Homo sapiens: one gene and its partners. The protein of the gene in region 1 interacts with the protein of each later gene in a pairwise test. Each region holds a gene or a part of one and is shown on either strand. Other genes may lie near its edges.

Region 1 (4,728 bases):
GATGGGTAGAAATTTGAAGATTCTGGGGCACTGGGAGGGCACTGCAGAGAGCCCTGGGCACCCTCGATGACCGAAGGAGGGAGAACTGTCACATTGGAGCCTGCTGTCTAGCACCCTGCCACCACTCGTGTTCCCACTCCTGTTTCTCAAACCACCATACAAAGCACCTTCTCTCTCGTGTAAAATTCTAAACAGCCAGCTGGGTCTTGAGCCCATTTCTTCAGCCGTGTGGCTGTGGGTGAGCCTGTGGGTGAGACGACTCTGCTCACCATTCTGCGGTGGCAGAAAATCATGCATTATTGCACCTGCTGGCCAGGGGCTGAGTGTTTTCAGTGTTAGAGGAGCTCAGTCTCTCAAAGAAACCCTAGTGGAACGTCAAGGCACACAGATCCAGGGCTGTTCCCTGGACATCACCTGCTGCGGCACCTGCTGGGTGAGGGTGGCCAGGGGTAGCTGAGTTCCAGAGTGGGAAGAGCACTGGGCTTGCATTCACGCCTTGAGCCCTCCCTCGCCGGCTCATGACTTTGGACAAGCTACAACTCACTTTTCTCATCTGTAACAAACGATAGCAAACTTTTAGTTTCTGTTTGCTCCCTTAATCAGGCACTGTCGTAAGCACTTAGGTTAACTCACTGAATTGCCACTACAGCCTTCTGAGGAAGATACTTTTATTCTCGCCTTCTTTCTGTTGGGAAACTGAGGCAGGGGATGATTAAGTAACAGTCCAAGGTTGCACCTCTTACCTTGGAGATGGGATTCAGACCCAGAGAGCTGAGATAAGAGTCCATCCTCTTCGCTGTTACCCTGTGCTTCCTCACCCAGAACTAGAGGACTTGGAATCCCTACACCGCAGGGTTGGAAAGATTGGATAAAATAATGTCTGAGAAAGAACTCTCATTAATTTTTTTTTTTTGAGGTGGAGTCTTGCTCTGTCGCCCAGGCTGGAGTGCAGTGGCGTGATCTCAGCTCACTGCAGCCTCCGCCTCCTGGGCTCAAGCGATTCTCCTGCCTCAGCCTCCCGAGTAGCTGGAACTACAGATGGCTGCCACCATGCCTGGCTAATTTTTGTATTTTTAGTGGAGACAAGGTTTCACCATGTTGGCCAGGCTGGTTTTGAACTCCTGACCTCAAGTGATCCGCCTGCCTCAGCCTCCCAAAATGCTGGGATTACAGGTGCAAGCCACCATGCCTAGCCTCATTAATTCTTTTAATCTTCCCCACTCTCCAAAAAAGCCTTGCCGTCAAGCAGCCTGTGGCCTAGCCTAGGGGTCAAGAACAACAGCCCAGTGCCTTCATATGCCAGGGAGGCTCCAGGGGAGATGAGGAGGCAGAGGCAAGGCTGAGAAGATTGCGTGCAGGCGGGCTGCCCTGACTTGTGTCCTCCCGTTCCCACGCCCACCCCTGCACCTCTTCTTGGGGCAGCCTCCTCTGTGGTCTGCAGAGCAGGGAACCTTCGCATGTGACTCCTGCTCTGGTTTTCCTAGCGGAGAAGAAGATGATGAGCTCAGCCTCTGCAGCAGGAACCCAGCAGATCTACTCCCAAGGAAGCCCATTTCCCTCTGGACACTCCGGGAAGGCCTTCAGGTATGTGCCAGCGAGGGGGACAATGGCGTGGGAAGATGCTCCCTCACCAAGAAAGCCCTGGGTCTCAGAGCACAGCTCTGTGGGCTGTAAGCATGAGTTAGTGGTTACTGGCGCTCAGGCCTTGGACTAAACTGAGGATTCTGGTGGCTCTGCTTCTGCTCTGTGAGCCCTCTATGAGTTGCCATAGATTCCTGGTGTCAGTTACTCTTTCTTGGATGTGAACAGCACCAGCCACTGTGTTCTGTGGCAGTGATTGCCAGGGAGAAGGGAGTGAGTTCCCTCTAGCCAGGACCCAAGTGAGCTGGAGCTGGGAACAGCTGACAAGGTAGCAGGAAGTATCCTGTCATCTGGTGCCCAGAGGCTACAGCCAAATCCAAGGAAGACTGGTCAGCTCAGCCCACCACGTCTGAGCCTCATCCTAAAGGGCACTCAAGGCTTCAGGCAGGGTGTCCAACCTTCCCAAGGGTTGGTTCTTAGCATCAAGGGCATCTGGTAGGTCACTGAGGAAGCCCTGACATCATCACTGGAGGCAAGGCCTGGCTCCACTGACTTCTGGGGAGACAGAAGCATCAACTGGGAAGAACGGTCAGAGAAGAGGCTGGCAGCTCTTGGGGAGGGTATGTGGGCACTCACCTGTGCCCACCAGACACCCTAAAGTTCCTCATGCCCAGCAGGGCAGGGCTTCTCCAGTGAGGTTGGCCAGACCCTAAGCAGAGCTTCCAGATGCAGAGGCCAGGAGGGCAGGTGGGGCCGGCCACCCAGAGAGAGGCCCCTGCCACGGGACTGCCCTAGCCACAAGGAATGAGGATTTTGCTTCCACACTGGTTCAAGGACAGACCTCCTGGAGACAGATTAGCAGACATTGCAGGGGCTCTGGCCACGCCTGCAGCTGAGTCTTGCTGAATTGCACACTGCTCTGAGGCTCTGGGGAGCCCTGGCTGCAGGCAGGGCCTCTGGTCTGGGGACAGCAGACAAGATGGCAGCCCTCTGTGAGCAGTCCCTAACCATCATCACCGCAGGTCACGCTGCTCTGCTGAGCAATAGTCAAGCCCTCCAGACTTCTCTTGGCTGCTGAGTTACTCAGCTACTCAGCACGCACTGACCGATCTCCGTTGATGCCAAGCCCTGTGCCAGCCCTGCCTGGGTGCTCATGTTCATGGGGTCCTTGTGACACTTGCTGCTTGTCCTCCACTCTGGACAAAGGGGATCAGGGAGAGCACAGCAGCAGGAGGTAAGGAGGGGACAGTTCAAAGGCAAGGGGACAGCCCAAGGTGGCATGACCGGAGAAGGTCTGGCTGACTCTTCAGCTAGGCCTGAAAGCAAAAGTCAGGTTCTGCCTCCTGACCAGGGCAGGGGTGCAAGGGCCTGAGGGGTGTGCTGAGTGAAGCCTTGGAGGAGGTGTTGTTGGAGGAGGCCTCACTAATGGGAGAAACAGAGGATGACCACGTTGTTCTATGACAACGGCCTCACACAGGCTCTGCACCTCACACTGGACTGTCTGCCCTGAGCTGTGTCTGCAGCAGCAGCCGTGGGGACCATGCTGAGGAGGAGGACACCATCACTGATGACCTTTGGGAGAAGAGTGAAGCTGCAGACAGGGCTCAGGGCAGACAGTCCAGCGTGAGGTGCAGAGCCTGGGTAACGCTGTTGTCATAGAAACAAAAATGTAGGGTGCACAGGGCAGTGATGAGTGATGGGGAAGGAAAAGCAGGTTTGGGGCAGCTGGCAGTGTGGGGAAGGAATCCAAGGAACGTCCGAACACCTGTGCAGAGCCTGGCATAGAAAAGGCACTTGCTGAGTACTAGTCTGTAAAATGAATGAATAAATGACTGAGTTAATTAAAGGATGCCTGTTAGGGCTAAAGCCTGTGGAATGGGCAGAATTTCCTGTATATCCGAAGGATCTGAGCTGGCTTGGGATGGGGTAGGCTGTGGGATGAAGGACTCTGGGGCCCAATACAGCCATAGGGAATCCTGGGCCGCTTGCAGAATGGTGTTGCTGGCACCTGAAGTGCATCCTCACCCACAGTCCTCCCTCTCTGGTCCCGCCAGTTTTGGCCCCTGCCTGTCCACACTAAGGCAGGCAGCTGTAGCCCAGAGGCCCCCAGGGAGGGCTGTGCACAAGGGCTGGCGCTTTGCCCCAAGAAGCCCATCCCTTTCTGCCAAGGCGCCTTTCCTAGGACCGTCTACGCTGTAGCGGCCCTCATCAGTCAGTGTTTTGGGGAGGACACCAAGGGCTGGGGGCTGTGGAGAGGGTCCTACTAGACAATAGTGACCAGAAAATGTCCTCTGAAGCAATACTTTCATCAGGAAGGAGAATGGGAAAGGAGCCCTTATGTTAAATGAGGAATTGATTGTATGAAGACAGAAATGATGTCCCCTTTATATAAGCCACTGAACTTGTTTTACAATGATCAGCTCAAGAATGTCTCTGACATTCTTGGTTTCTCCCTATTTTAAAAGGGATCAGATAGCATAGGAAACTTATTAGAATACAATAGTAAAATTTTACCCAATCTCTGCTGATCTCTGGCTTGCCTTTTTTTTAACACGGAGCTGAAAATCTACCAAAGCCTTCTGTGATGAGCCCCATTCTGCCCTACTTGACTGATTCATGGGCACCCAGCGCACTGCCCTGCATGCTGAGCTAGTCCCAGGGAGGCAGGAGGAGGGGCCTGAAACAAAGTAAAAGTCTGCCCCCAGCCTTTTAGTCTTTGATGAGCTTCTCATGTAATCGACATAGCCTGGAAAATCTCCTGGAAGAAGCGCCTGGTGGTACAGACAGTGCCTGCCGAGGAGCTAAGCAGGGTCAGAGATTTAGCCTGCAAAGGCCATGCAGAGAGCACGGCACACAGCAGGGGCCTAATAAAGACAAACTGAGTTAAGTCGAAGGTGAACTGAAGGTGGGAGGGGTAAACTCTGGGTAGCAGGACTAGGCCCCATCCAGCAGGTTTTCATTGAGAAGCTTTTCTTTCCGTTTAAAACTGACAGCCTGCAACCTATTTCCTGAATCCTTAAGCCTCATAGGTGCCCCAAAGGAACAAATTAACCAGAGCACAAAAGAGTGAGTGAACAGTGGGACTGATTTTTATTCTAAGAAGCTTCTCTCTTTCTGGGAACCAAATCATCTGCTGAGAGCAGAGGA
Region 2 (4,800 bases), on another chromosome or scaffold:
TTCTATGACTTGAGTACATAGTGGTTGTTTGGAATTTTGCTAATACTAGGACCTTCACATATGGCTTCACAAGTTGTGTACTGCACAACTCCAGGGGGCTACTGAGCATTTTTAAGCTAATCACTACCTGGTACACACTCAATCTTAAAGATCTTTGAAATTTGAATCAATCAAAAGGATATTTATACAAGATTTATATGTAGACAGGCACATTTGAAATTGCATCCTTCTAAAGATAATTTTATATCATTATAACTTCACAAGAAAAAATTTGTTTTCCTCTGTTGATCCTAGTAATAGCAAACACACACAGTAATATGACTGCCATGGAATGAAAAATTATTAAGTATTGAAAAACTGAACTGAAAGATAAAATCTTTTAATGTGTGGATTATGGAAAAGGAGGAGGCTTACTTTATGCAAGGCTGATATTATATACCGGTATATATTATATACCGGTATATATTGGTATATACTGATATTATACTGGTATATACTGATATTATATACTGGTATATATTATATACCACTAGGTACAGCAGGTTATGGAAAAGTTTCTCATAGTTGAAGGGGGAGCCTTTTAACAAACAGAAAATTTCTCCAGTGGACTTAATTGATACCTAAATTTCTACATTAAAATTTAATCACTTTCATTTATACCTATGTCATATATTACATGTACATACCTTGAATAGGAGGATGCATTTATTCTCATTAGTCATTTACCATGTAGGGCGAATAGGAGGCCCACAGATGCTGATAAGAAAAGGATTTCTTGGAGAAAGACAGAGAGCACTGCAGTGAGCACCTTCCATGACCTCTTTCAAGTGGGGAGAGGGGCCTGACAAAGAGAACACGGTGAGATGCTGAAGGCAAACACTGACCATTCCAAATTTAGAAATTTAGAGGATAGAACAAATTTGGAGGATAGACTCTAGCATCAAGATTTTTGTTTAGCATTAACCAAAAGTTCAAGGACAGACTAGAAGTCTTTGCTCAAGATTTTATATTTTTAGGATGTTCTTAGAAGTTAAATAAAAAGCTCCCCACTTCTTGAATAAGCAGAGTTGATGCTGCATGATTCTTTCTTGAGGGCAGCAAAATCTGCCTCCATGCCTGACCCACTGTAGGCATCCAATAAATGCCTCTGGGACAAAATATGTTTCATTTTATTCACCTTATTTTCACCAGAAGGTAATGAATTATATTTTGAAACAAATTTTAGGAAACTACAAGCTTCTTCTTTGGATAAACGGGCTTTCCACATCTTGGCAGACCACTGCTGAGTACAGTGTCAGCATGACTTCCAGCCGCGTCTCAGCCTCCCTCACCTACTGCGGGACTTGTCCGGGGCTCTGTTGCATACCCCGCCATTGTATACAGACTCAACCAAAAACCGGTATTCTAAAGCTCATCATTTTTGTCATTTAGAGCACTTATTTTCTCATTTCAGAAAGTGGATGTCACCAGCAGGGCTGTGATGGAAATAATGACTAAAACAATTGAATACCTTCAACCCAATCCAGGTAAGGCATCATCTTATATGTTTAAAGGATCCCTCGAGGTAACTTTTAGTTTCTCTTTGATAGACATTTTAAGTTTGGTGTGTTTCTTCTTTTGGTGTTGCTTCCTCGGTCCACTTTTCTGAGAGGTTAGCGACTTCATGGATAGCACATTTTAACTGGGGAGAAGGGCTTTTTAAAGCTCACATTGAAGTAACTGGAAGATCTGTGGTATTTTATCTGACTGTGGTATATTTAACAAATAATGTATGCAAACAGTTCAGGTGACACATAATATCAGAGTAGCTATAAACTGTTATCAGTTTGAACTTTCAAGAGATGGTAAGAAGGAAAATTAGGATAGTTTAAGGTAAGATATAATGATTCCCAGAAGATGTGAAAAAGTAGGGAGGTGAATCGTTTTCATGAAACACAGAGGGTTTCTTCATAGGGCATCACCAAAGTCTTCAGAGCGTTGATCTTGATTCTGATTCTTCTCCAAGCACATCACAGATCAGCATTGGTTCCTGCTAACTTGTTATACTCTAAGAAAAAGAAGTGGTAATAGAGATAACGGAGCTATATGTTGATAAGAGGACCAGGCAGAGTTGGGGCAGTTTCGGTAGGCACTAGGTATAGCAAAGCAAAGCAAAGCAAAGCAGCCTACCTGATAGACCTCCTCATTACCATTCCTGTGTGTCAGTTTCTAACCACAGGGCACGGAAACGGGAAGTGAGGCTGGTTGTATTTAAGTGAGATGTGTGAATATTTGGAATACCCCTTAATCTTGAGGCTAGTTTCTTTGCAAGTTTCAGGTTGGGGTTCCGTGTATTTTATGGTCCTAGAGAGGATGGTGCAGACAACTGCTTCAGCCCCAATGAGTTTGGATACTGAGCAATAGTGGACAAGTGATCAAAAAAAAAAAAAAAAGGGGGCGGGTGTGGGCTGAGAGGAAGCAGGTGTGTGCTGTACTAAGTGCTGGCTCCTTTTCTATGCCCCCTGCTGCTGGCTGCAGCTTCCTTCCATCCTTATTCACCTATGACCAGCCCAGCTGCTATTCTGAGGATGAGCAGACTATGTAGGAATAACTTTCTGGATATTTGTTGCTGTTGTTTTTGTTCATAAAACACATTAGAAATGAGCTTATGTGAGGGAGGAAAATATGGAAGAAAATGTGATAAGCTATAGGAACCAGGAATTTAACTGACAGTGGTCTAGATACATTTTCAAATGCTTAGCAAATTTGTCAAAGCACTGCAAAAATCAGGTTTCTTATTTTTACCCAGAACCTTCTTGGTAACCACTGTTTTTCACAGAGATGCAAAGATCTCTTGGATGCACATTTATTCCTTACTGTTTAAACCACTGTCATAGGTCAAGTTCTGAAAGAGAACTGCTCGCCCTGCTTCCCCGCAAGAAATCATTATATAGGGGCAAGAAGTTTTGGTCTTTATCTTTGCCTAGAACCTTGAAGTACTCCATGATTTCCTGGGATTTTCACGAGTTGTACTTGTAACTCATGGTTGTAGGGCTAAGAGAAAGGCAGTGGGAGGAGGAATATAGTATTTATTGAGCACTGATGCATTTTCAGTGCAGTGCTAGGTATATGAGGCATTGTCTCATCTTTAAAAGTAACCATTTTTCTCCATATAAAGTAAAAACAGTTGAAGAATTTCTAGTATGAAAATAGACTAAAAATTCATTGTAACACAAATTATCAGTGGGAGCTCATCAGTTTTCCTGAGTATAATGGAACTGTGCTCTGTTGTAGGTAGGTGTGGTGGGTTGCATTGTGTGTCTCCCCAAATTCAGGTCCATCCAGAACTAAACTTATAAGGAATGTGACCTTATGTGGAAATAATCCTTGCAGATGTAAGTAGTGATGTAGGATCTTGAGATGAACTCTTCCTAGATTTAGGGTGGCCCCTAGAACCAGTGATGGGTGTCCTTATGAGAAGAGGAGAGGACACAGAGAAACACAGGAAAGAAGGCCACGTGAAGAATGAGAAGAGGTTGAAGTTACACGTCACGAGCAAAGGAATGCCAGGAGCCACCACCACAAGCTGGAAGACATGAGGAAGGATTCTCTCAGAGCCTCCAGAGGGAACCAACTTTGCCGACACCTTGATTTCAGACTTCCGGTATGCTGAACTGTGAGGGAATCAATTCTTTTCTTTGAGGCTGCCCAGTTTGTGGTCATTTGAAATGACAGCTCTAGAAAACTAATCCAGTACGCTAGCCTCATTTTATTCAGGAAAAAACAAGGGTCAGAGAATTTAAGGAACTTTCCCATTCATACACCTAGGAAGGGATGAAGACAAGATTGGAACTCAGGTCTGACTACCTCCTAAGTCTCTGCACTTCACGTTGCACGATCCTGCCTCTGAGAAGGGTAGGCTCCATTTCATTTAGGTGTGAAGGGTCCTTCCCTTTCAGAGAGTACCAGAGAAATTCAGAAAGGAAATTGTGGGATTAAGGCTTATTTTTATTTTAATAAAAAACATCAAAGGAGGAGGTAATTGAGAAGATCTGAATGTTTAGAAATGACATTTTTAATACAATATTGCATGTGCTAATTGGCTGCCAATATAATGGTTTTGTGACTATTTGAGAGTTGAATGGACATCTGCCACTAAGAACAATGAAGGCCATTACAGGCAATTCGAGGTTGGTTTCAGAAAAACAGTTATGTATGGGCAGGCCACATACATATATGAGTAAGTACTACCCAGAAGAGTCCAGAACAAAACGAAAATTTTGTGTAATCATTCCACAGAATTTAAACAACCTGCATTTAATTGTTTACAACAGGTACAATTTCATCCCTCCACCAGCTTCTTGCCCTGAGAGTAGACACTGGCCATAGAGCCCAGACCAGGTAACTGGTAAAGTTGAGAGTTAGGCAGACACCCAGAGAGACAGTCCTTGGGCACAGGAGAGCACAAAGAATGTTCCCAAACTCGTGCAGTTTGCTAAATACTTTGCCCACTCAGCCTTTCAGTGAACCCTAGAGCTGGGCCAACCAGTGTGGATACTGAATGCTGGTTCTGAATAAGCAAGATATGGCCTGGGTTAGGACAGGGCCTGATGCCAAGTAACACATTTACATGGACAGGCCAGGGGAATCAGTAGGATTTGATGCTTCGAGGGTACTTTGGGAGTACATCTGTATTAGATTACTGCTCCCGGGTGCTTGCTGGCTTTCACATCTTGGGTACATGGACAGGCCAGGGGAATCAGTAGGATTTGATGCTTCGAGGGTACTTTGGGAGTACATCTGTATTAGATTACTGCTCCC
Region 3 (4,800 bases), on another chromosome or scaffold:
CACCATGACCAAAATTCCAGACTCCCAGAAGAGAAGGAAGTGTTCACCATGAATCACATATTTTGTCCAAGCAGTCTACATAATCTGGTACAATAGAACAGTGCCCCAGGTGGGCAAAATAAGCCTTATCAACAAAGGAGATGTCCCACAAACCAGATTCTCAGATCCCAGTCACGAGCTAGTGCTGCAAGCAAGCCCCCCCCCCTTTTTTTTTAATTTTATAACTTTATTTGAGGTATTTGATGATCAGCGATTAGTTCTCATCCACATTGACTGTCTGTAGATTTTTGAAAGTGGTAACAGGTACATAGGTAACCAAAGTATAGAGCTTATTTGGTGGATCTTCATCCTCATAACATTTTCTGGACAACCGCACACGGATGCAGTATGGGACATTCTTTATTCCTTTGTCTCAGACAGCTTTGTTGAGGCTGGTATCAATGCACACATCTGGAGTTCCCATCTCCTTCATGGCAAGTTTCCGAATCTCTTTGAGTGCCTGAGGAGCACGCTTCTTGAAGCCACTCCATGGATGCACTTGTGAATGTTGATGGTGTATTCTCAGGTCACCACCTCATTGATGGCCGAATGACCCTTTTTCTTCTCGCCACCCTTCTTTCTGGGAGCCATTCTGCTGGGTCCAAGATGGAAAGGGAAGCCCTTCTTAAGATAGCAACATTAGGCTGCTATATTAACTCTTTTCTGCATGAATGAGGTCATTTTTGCCTATTTTCTTTTCTTTTTTTTTTTTTTTTTTGAGATGGAGTCTTGCTCTGTCACCCAGGCTAAAGTGTGGTGGTGCAATCTCCACTCACTGCCAGCTCCGTCTCCCAGGTTCACACCATTCTCCTGCCTCAGCCTCCCGATAGCTGGGACTACAGGCGCCCGCCACCACGCCCGGCTAATTTTTTGTATTTTTAGTAGAGACAGGGTTTCACCATTAGCCAAGGTTGTCTCGATCTCCTGACCTCGTGATCCGCCCGCCTCAGCTCCCAAAGTGTTGGGATTACAGGCGTGAGCCACTGCGCCCGGCCATTTTTGCCTACTTTCATAGGGAAAAGGGATAGCAGCACCAAGCTGAGGCTTCCTTCGAATTCTCCCATGACTTTGTTTCCCCAACCTCTCTTAGCCCCTCTCCTGAGCTGTCTGGTAAGTAGCTGTTTTTCCACCTGGCTGGCTAAAGCAAATGTCCTTCCTTCCTGATAAATAAGACAACTGGTATCAAGAGGCTATAACACTTTTTCTTTTCTGATTTCAGAGCAGCCTGAACATGCATTCCGTGCCCAGCTACCTCACCCAGCCTCCACCTCCTCCTCCACCTCCTCCACCACTGCCCCCACCGCCACCACCTCAGCCTCCACCACCTCCACCCCAGAGCCTGGGCCCCCCTGGGCGTCCCAACCCTGGTGGGAACGGTGTGGTGGAGGTGTACAGTGCTGCTGCGCCCCTGGCTGGGAGTGGAACGGTGGAGATCCAGGCACTGGGGATGCAGCCCTACCCACCCCTAGAGGTGAGCAGAGGGGGCAGGGTGGAAGAGGACACTGGTCATGGACATCATGGCCAACCCGGACCCATCCTGAGCACCAGCTGTGTGCCAGACACTGTGCTGGGGATACCATGAAAACCAGACCCGGTCCTGGCCTTCATGGGGTGTACCACATCACAGGGGAGAAGGACTTTAATCAAAGCATCACACCCACAGATGTAAGATGCAAGCCATGAGAAGGTGGAATGGAGTACAGGTTGTAGCAGAAATATAAGCTGCCTGCAGGTAATGCTCAGAACAGTCAGAGAATGCCTACCTTTTCAGGCAAAAAAAAGAAAAAAGATTCAAAAAAATTATCTGCCTGAGTGTCTCTTACAGTTTTTAATAAGCTAGGTGTATCAGTTAGCTATTGCTGGGTAAGAAATATCCATCAGGCATCAGTGGCATATACCAAAAGTGTTTATTATTCACGTGTTTACAGTGGTCAGCTAGACAACTGCGGATCTTGGCTGGGCTCACTCATATGTCTGAACGTTGGCTGGCTGTCAGCTGCTCTAGGATGGCCTGGGCTGGGACAAGTGGGGTGACTCAGCTCTGTTCTGCGTGACTCTCATCCTCCACTAGGTTCTCATGGCCATGGTGGAGGTGCAAAAATGCAGACAGAAATGCCCAAGGCCTTTTGAGGTTTAGGCTTGTAAGTAACACAGAATCACTTCTATTGGCCAAAGCAGATCACAAGTCCAGCTTAGATAGCGCAGGTAGGGAAATAGATGCCACCTCTTGATGGGAGGAACTGCAGAGTCACACTGCAAAGGCTTGGGTACAGGGAGGGGCAAAGAATTGGTGCCATAATACAATCAATGTACCATACTAATTCCCTGCCAATGAGCTCTAAGTTATAGGCCATCTACTTGAAATGCACTGAGTTCATAGAACCTTCCAAGACACCAGTGCTAGAGGGTATGGTTATGACAGAAACAACCCACCTGCACTAGAAATCACACTAACTCAGACTCACCATAGAATCCAGCCACAGACATCCCCTGTCAGGTAGTCTCTTTATGTAAAGAGAGCCCAGACCAGTGGGAAGATCCCACCACGAGGCATTCACGTGATGTTCTGAGGGGCTGCGAGGGGATTTGCCCTACCCTGGGAGAATAGAACAAGCTTCTCTAGGGAATTTATTGCATTGAGAAAAAGTTAAGTTAGTGGGATGCTGAGATAATGCTGGTGGCTTGTGGTAGTCAGAGGGGACCAGCCCAGAGAGGACCAGCACAGAAGGAGCTGCTGCTGTTGATTTTCCATGTAGATGAGGGTATTTGAGGGCAGGGTCTGAGTCTTACTAGACTTTGCATCCTTAGCACCTAGCAGAGCACTCCTAGAGTAGATATCTTACATTGGACTGTCTGACCTCAGTCTGCGCTCCTCTAAAATGGGAACTCTCCTGAAAAGCTGTTGAGGATAATAAGAGCCTATGCCAGTGGCAGTCACATTAATTACTCAGTAATGCCTTGAGTGATGGCTGAATTTATTCACGTGACAAGTATTTATTTATTTATTTGAGACAGAGTCTCACTCTATCGCCCAGGTTGGAGTGCAGTGGTGTGATCTCGGCTCACTGCAACCTCCACCTCTCAGGTTCAAGCGATTCTCGTGCCTCAGCCTCCCAAGTAGCTGGTATTACAGGTATGAGCTACCACGCCCAACTAATTTTTTTTGTATTTTTAGTAGAAACGGGTTTCACCATGATGGCCAGGCTGGTCTCGAACTCCTGGCCTCAGGTGATCTGCCTGCCTTGGCCTCCCAAAGTGCTGGGATTACAGGCATGAGCCACCACACCCGTCCCAACAAGTATTTATTGAGTGCTGTATTGGTCAGGGTTTGGTCAGGAAAATAGAAACCAGGCAAGGTATTTCTGCAGAGGGATGTTTTTTCTTTTCTAAATTAGAGATAGGGGTCTCACTTTAGCCCAGGTTGGTCTCCATCTCCTGGCCTCAAGTGATCCTCTCACCTCAGCCTCCCAGAGTGCTGGGATTACAGGCATGAGCCACCATACCCGGCCAGATTTTATAATTTTTTTTGTACCTTTTTTTCAGCTTTGTCTGATTTTATTACTCCAACTGTAGCTTTCTATTTATTTATATTTGTCTGAAATATTTTTTCAACTTTGGGCTTTTTGCTGAGTTGAATTCTTTTTTTTTTTTTTTTTTTGAGACTGAGTCTTGCTCTGTCACCCAGGCTGGAGTGCAATGGCATGATCACGGCTCACCACAGTCTCGATCTCCCAGGCTCAGATGATTCTCCCACCTCAGCCTCCTGAGTAACTGGGACTACAGGCATGCACCACCATGCCCATCTAATTTTTTTAATGTTTTGTGGAGATGAGATCTCCCTATGTTGCCCAGGCTAGTCTCAAACTCTTGTGCTCAAGTGATCCTCCTTCCTCGGCCTGCCAAAGTGCTGGAATTACAGGCATGAGCCATCGTGCCTGGCCAGAGATTTTGGATAGGACACCTCAGGAAGACCAATGGATGATGAATAGGCCAGGCACAGGGGCTCACGCCTGTAATCCCTGCACTTTGGGAGCCCGAGGTGGGTGGATCACTTAAGCTCAGGAGTTTGAGTCCAGCTTGGGCAACATGGTGAAATCTTGTCTCTACAAATTACACAAAAATTATCTGGGCATGGTGGTGTGTGCCTGTTATCCCAGCTATTTGGTGGGGTGAGGCGGGAGGGTTGCTTGAGCCTGGGAGGTCAAGGCTGCAGTGAGCCGAGATCACATCATTGCATTCCAGCCTGGACAATAGAGCAAGAAAAATCTGAATGCCTCAGAATTCATTTGGTAATTTCTCGTGGCTTCAGTTCTCAGTGAAGAGAAGCCTGCTACTCTGGCATTGGGTAGTGTCAGTCAGGAAGTGGAGCAGCTGGGGGAGCACAGACCCCTCTGACTTCCTGGTTCTCTCTCTCTCTTTTTTTTTTTTTTTTGAGACAGAGTCTCACTCCATCGCCCAGGCTGGAGTGCAGTGGCGCGATCTCGGCCCACTGCAACCTCCGCCTCCCAGGCTCAAGTGATTCTCCTGCCTTAGCCTCCTGAGTAGCTGGGATTACAGGCACACACCACCATGCCTGACTTAATTTTTGTATTTTTAGTAGAGATGGGGTTTCACCATGTTGGCCAGGCTGGTCTCAAACTCCTGACCTTAGGTGATCTGCCCACCTTGGTCTCCCAAAGTGCTGGGATTACAGGTGTGAGCCACCAGGCTCAGCCACCTAGTTCTCTTAATGCTAGCAAAGTACCACTGATAAGAATAGAC
Region 4 (4,800 bases), on another chromosome or scaffold:
CTTCAACACTCAAATCAACTCCCTCACCTTGGACACATCTTTTCCTGCTGTCTGCTGAGAGGACTGCTGCAGCACTAAATGCTTTTGACTGATTACCCTGAGATTTAGTGTTCTGGAACCCCAACTAGGTTCGGGGCAGTCCCTTACAGGAATTCCTCTGCCCCTACTTTTAGGGCAACTTCAGCCACAGGTTCAGCCAGAAGGAACACAGAAGATGGGCTTACTCCAATGATATCCTCATCTAGACACTTCTGTAACTTCTTATCTCAATGGACTACTCTAAATGACACAGATGGACTACTTATCCATCTGTGTCAATGGACTACTCTAAGTGACAAAGATCTGTCCTGGGACACTGTACTTGTATTTGATTTTTAGATGCAACCAAAAGCCAATCCAAATGAGAACATTTGGATTGCAAATGAGAACAAATGGATTGGAACATTTGGATGGAAAACATTGGTGCCCATGTGGCGTAATGCAGCTCTGGAACAAAAATGGGATGGAATATTAAGTAACAAGACTTAATATTCTCAGGGAATCCTGGTCTGACTCTGACAAAATCAGAGAGGTGTTTCAAAAAGTTCTGAAAACACTGGAGTAGATGCTTATTATTAATTACCCCAAATGACTTCTAGAACCGTTAAAGAACTTTTTTGAAGTGTATTTGTTAATAAAAAAATTTTCAATACTCAGAATCACATTTAGGTCAAGCTTTCTAGGTCCGATTTCTTTCTATAAGATAAAAATGCCTAATTATTTACTACTAACTCATGCAAGTTCCTGAGAAAATAGCAAAATAACTGGCTGCTCAACATTCACTATTAGAGCTTCAATGTGCCTTTGGAGGTCATACATTAGCTTCAGTTTCTTCATCACTTTCATTATCAGAAATGAAATGAGAATTGTGTCAGATGGTATTTATGGTTCTTTTCAACTCTAGATGGATACACACATCTAGGGAATAATAACTCCTCCCCCCCACCATTTTCCAGAAAGAAGGAATTCTACCTTCTTCATCAAGTCCACCGATGATGTTGTAAACATAGTATGGAAAGAAGCGCCTTGAATACAGGATTGTAGACAGCATTGCAGCAATTGCCCCCGTAGTCATGGCCTTATTATTGGAATGCTTATACATCTGCAATTATTGATAAAAGTCACAGGCATGTAGAGGCAGAGGCCATTATAGACTAGAACAATCAACAGTATAAAGTGAATAAATAAATGCATACCACAGTGGAAGGGGAAAGCATGCCTATTTCCTTCATGATCAACCAACACAGTATTACTAACATAAAATTTTAAGGGAAGGAATGCCAAGTTTGCCCTCAGCTCTCTGGTTTAGACTCTATTTTCCATACCACCCTTATCTCAGGTACTGCTAATCCAAGAGCTAATGTGTATGAAAGGGCACATGAAGTGGCCTAAGGAAGATGGGTTTAAATCCATCTCTCTCCCTCACTCTGCATATAGACCAGGGGTCAACAAACTACCCCTGTAGTTTGGCTCAGGGGCCAAATCCAGCCTACTCCCTATTGCTATGAATATTGTCCGTGGCTGCTTTTTCACTACAGAAGCAGATCAAATGAGGCCCATAAAGCTGTAAATATTTACTATCTGGTCCTTTACAGAAAAATTACGGCAATCCCTGATCAAACCTAGATGTAAGTCCCTCTCTTTGTGGAGCAGATCTCTGTGAGAACAGAAGACACAGGGCAGCACCCTTACTCTGCATGATTTTAATACACAGCAGTGGTCGTGATCCTTAAAACATCTACAGTAGAGAACACAAGCATCCAAAACAGGGTCTTAGCATGACAATACAGTGACTGCAAATCCTAGCTTTACTATACCTTTGCGAGCCCTACATTACCCACTGGTAGAGAAACTTCACAAAAATTATAAACATAAAATGAATTCAAGATCACCAATTTTTGTTAACCACATAGCAAACATCTCTAATGAGAAACTTAATGGCCAGGCATAGTGGCTCACACCTGTAATCCCAACTGAGGCGGGAGAATGTTTGAGCCCAGGAGATGAAGGCTACAGTGAGCTACAATGGCGCCACTGTACTCCAGCCTGTGCAACAAAGTGAGACGCTGTCTCTAAATAAATAGACAGATAGATATCTAACTAGCACCGTAAAATTAAATAATGACAGTCAAAACACTGAAAAATGATTAGAAATGAACTACAAGTAACAGGTAAGTTTTTTATAGAGGAATGCCTTTCCAAGATAAAAACTATAAAAAATTATTCATAGGCCGGGCACAGTGGCTCACTGCTGGCCTGTAATCCCAGCACTTTGGGAGGCCGAGATGGGTGGATCACCTGAAGTCAGGGGTTCGAGACCAGCCTGGCCAACATGGTGAAACCCCGTCTCTACTAAAATACAAAAATTAGACAGGGGTGGTGACAGGTGCCTGTAATCTCAGCTACTCGGGAGGCTGTGGCAGGATAATCACTTGAACCCAGGAGGCAGAGGTTGCAGTGAGCCAAGATCATGCCATTGCACTCCAGCCTGGGCAACAAGAGTGAAACTCTGTCTCAAAAAAAAAAAAAAAAATTTCATTCCATTTCATTTCGAAACCAAGCACCAACATTTATTTACTTCACCACCTAATAAAGTATGAGAGAAAAACTTCAGGAAGGGGTGTGTATTATGTAGAATTCACCATTCCTTGTTTTATTAACAATATCATGTTTACTTTTGTCTTCTAACTCCCATTTATAAAATAAGCATTAGGAATTATCATATAAATATGCCAATAAATGTAAGTCACTATGGCTTTCAATGTAAGTTTCTAAAAAAGCATTAACAATTGATAAATACTGAGTGAAATCCTTTCTACACATTCAAAAAGCATGTGTCAGTTAAATAAATATACTATATACTCCAGTAACCACTCATAAGTGTAAATAATCTCAAGTGTTATTCATGAATAGGCAAAACAGAATGTGATCACCCCTGACTTCTGGCAGCTGGCTATCAACTGAAGCTGGTCAGGTGACAGACGTTAATGGTGCATGTTGTGCCTCCCATCCAAGCTCCCAGCTTATTCATTCTTTCGTATTTCTACTCATGCATCCTGCCAACTAAGAGCACAGCACTGTAAAGAGGAAAAGCTTGTCAACTGATGGTGATGCAAACCAAGCTCCTGTGTCAAATCTTTCCTGGGCTCTCTCCTGCCACAGAAATTGATTTGCTTTGTTTTTGAGGGAAGAGTATCTTCAGAAGAAGAACTCCTCCCAGGCTCCTTCTAAAAGGGTAGAGAACCCTTCATATGATACAAGACTTTAACAAATGGAATGTGCTGCTGTTTCACATTATGCTACTTTAATGACCCTGCATTAATGATATCATTTCATTTCTAGCATACATTTGTAATTCATCTACTAACCTAGTGACTCTCTAGCTATCTGACCAACAGTCATGCTGTAGGCTTAAAAGAATTTAATGAATTACTATTAATTTAAAATAGTGTAGAAATGTACAAAAGCATCTACCTTTAGTCTTGCTTCAATAATCTTTGTCAGCGTAAGACAGTCTCCATGAAAACCGCTGCATCCAATGACTGTTTTGTCTGTTCTGTAAAAAGCACATTTCAGAAAACTGAGCTGGTTAGATAGTAGAGCAAAACATATCTTCGGCAATTTTAAATTTAAAATTCTGATTCCCACTATTCCCTAAATGGTAATGGGACAAACAGTCACCCTTCTGGGGAGGAGGGGTCTGTATTCCATCTTACCCCTTATTCCAGATGAATTACAGGTGGATCAAAGACTTTAAAAATGCGACTATGAATGGACTAAATAAATCATGGGTGAATTTTTTTTACTATCTTGGGCTGAGGAAGATACGTAGGTAGGTTAATTGACTGATTTTTGAGACGGAGTTTCGCTCTTGTCACCCAGGCTGGAATGCAGTGGCGCAATCTTGGCTCACTGCAACTTCCGCCTCCTGGGTTCAAGCAATTCCCCTGCCTCAGCCTCCCAAGTATCTGGGATTACAGGCACCCGCCACCACACCCAGCTGATTTTTGTATTTTTAGTACAGATGGGGTTTCACCATGTTGGCCAGGCTGGTCTCAAACTCCTGACCTCAGGTAATCCACCTGCCTTGGCCTCCAAAGTGCTGGGATTACAGGTGTGAACCACTGCACCCAGCCTCGTGAAGGTAGATTTAAACAACACAATCCAAGGGCCACACAGAAAAATTTCATAAATTTGACTACATAAAATTCTACAGGGAAATTTAAGAATAGCTTTTTAAAACCCTAAGAAAATATATTAGTAGCATCTACCCCCAAAGTCTAATTTTAATTCTATAAAAATTCTTACAAATAAGGAAAGCAATAACATAAAGGAAAGATGGGTAACTTCTATGAACAGACAAGTCACAGAAAAAAGAGACATTAAGTCACCATAAACATAAGAGCCTCTATGTTACTCAGAAATCCAAATCTCAAAAAGAGACTATTTCAACCAATTATACTGGCTAAAAATGCCTAACTAACTAAATGCTGGTGAGGTTGTGGAAACAGTATAAACTGATTAACCTGTTAGATGGGCAATTTGGTGGTATTTATTAAAAATTTAAATACACACCACTCTCACCAATTCTATTGCTAGAAATCCATCTTGTTAATATACTTATCCAAGTATGCAAAGGGATGCTCTAGACTCACCAGTGAGTACTCATTTAAATAGCACCCCAAAACAAAACAAAACCTAAATGTCCATCTGTATGGAGAGGATTAAAATTTGGTATAGACATACAAATTCAACCGTGTA

Evidence for each region. Proteins that work in one complex are often made in the same cells at the same time.
Region 2: the proteins of ARNT2 (region 1) and SH3GL2 interact in a two-hybrid assay, tested with the Homo sapiens proteins (one large-scale study listed by BioGRID and IntAct).
Region 3: the proteins of ARNT2 (region 1) and ZNF341 interact in a two-hybrid assay, tested with the Homo sapiens proteins (one large-scale study listed by BioGRID and IntAct).
Region 4: the proteins of ARNT2 (region 1) and PSMB1 interact in binary tests that used the Homo sapiens proteins (3 or more experiments, as listed by UniProt).

The regions. Positions count from the first base shown.
Region 1 is NC_000015.10:80,575,382-80,580,109, forward strand, and holds part of ARNT2 (aryl hydrocarbon receptor nuclear translocator 2), read left to right. Parts: intron 1-1,484; coding exon 1,485-1,584; intron 1,585-4,648; exon of another isoform or gene 4,649-4,728. UniProt on the Homo sapiens protein: Transcription factor that plays a role in the development of the hypothalamo-pituitary axis, postnatal brain growth, and visual and renal function. Specifically recognizes the xenobiotic response element (XRE).
Region 2 is NC_000009.12:17,759,984-17,764,783, forward strand, and holds part of SH3GL2 (endophilin-A1), read left to right. Parts: intron 1-1,453; coding exon 1,454-1,526; intron 1,527-4,800. UniProt on the Homo sapiens protein: Implicated in synaptic vesicle endocytosis. May recruit other proteins to membranes with high curvature. Required for BDNF-dependent dendrite outgrowth.
Region 3 is NC_000020.11:33,751,914-33,756,713, forward strand, and holds part of ZNF341 (zinc finger protein 341), read left to right. Parts: intron 1-1,258; coding exon 1,259-1,510; intron 1,511-4,800. UniProt on the Homo sapiens protein: Transcriptional activator of STAT3 involved in the regulation of immune homeostasis. Also able to activate STAT1 transcription.
Region 4 is NC_000006.12:170,542,590-170,547,389, forward strand, and holds part of PSMB1 (proteasome subunit beta type-1), read right to left. Parts: intron 3,596-4,800; coding exon 3,514-3,595; intron 1,142-3,513; coding exon 1,012-1,141; intron 1-1,011. UniProt on the Homo sapiens protein: Non-catalytic component of the 20S core proteasome complex involved in the proteolytic degradation of most intracellular proteins. This complex plays numerous essential roles within the cell by associating with different regulatory particles.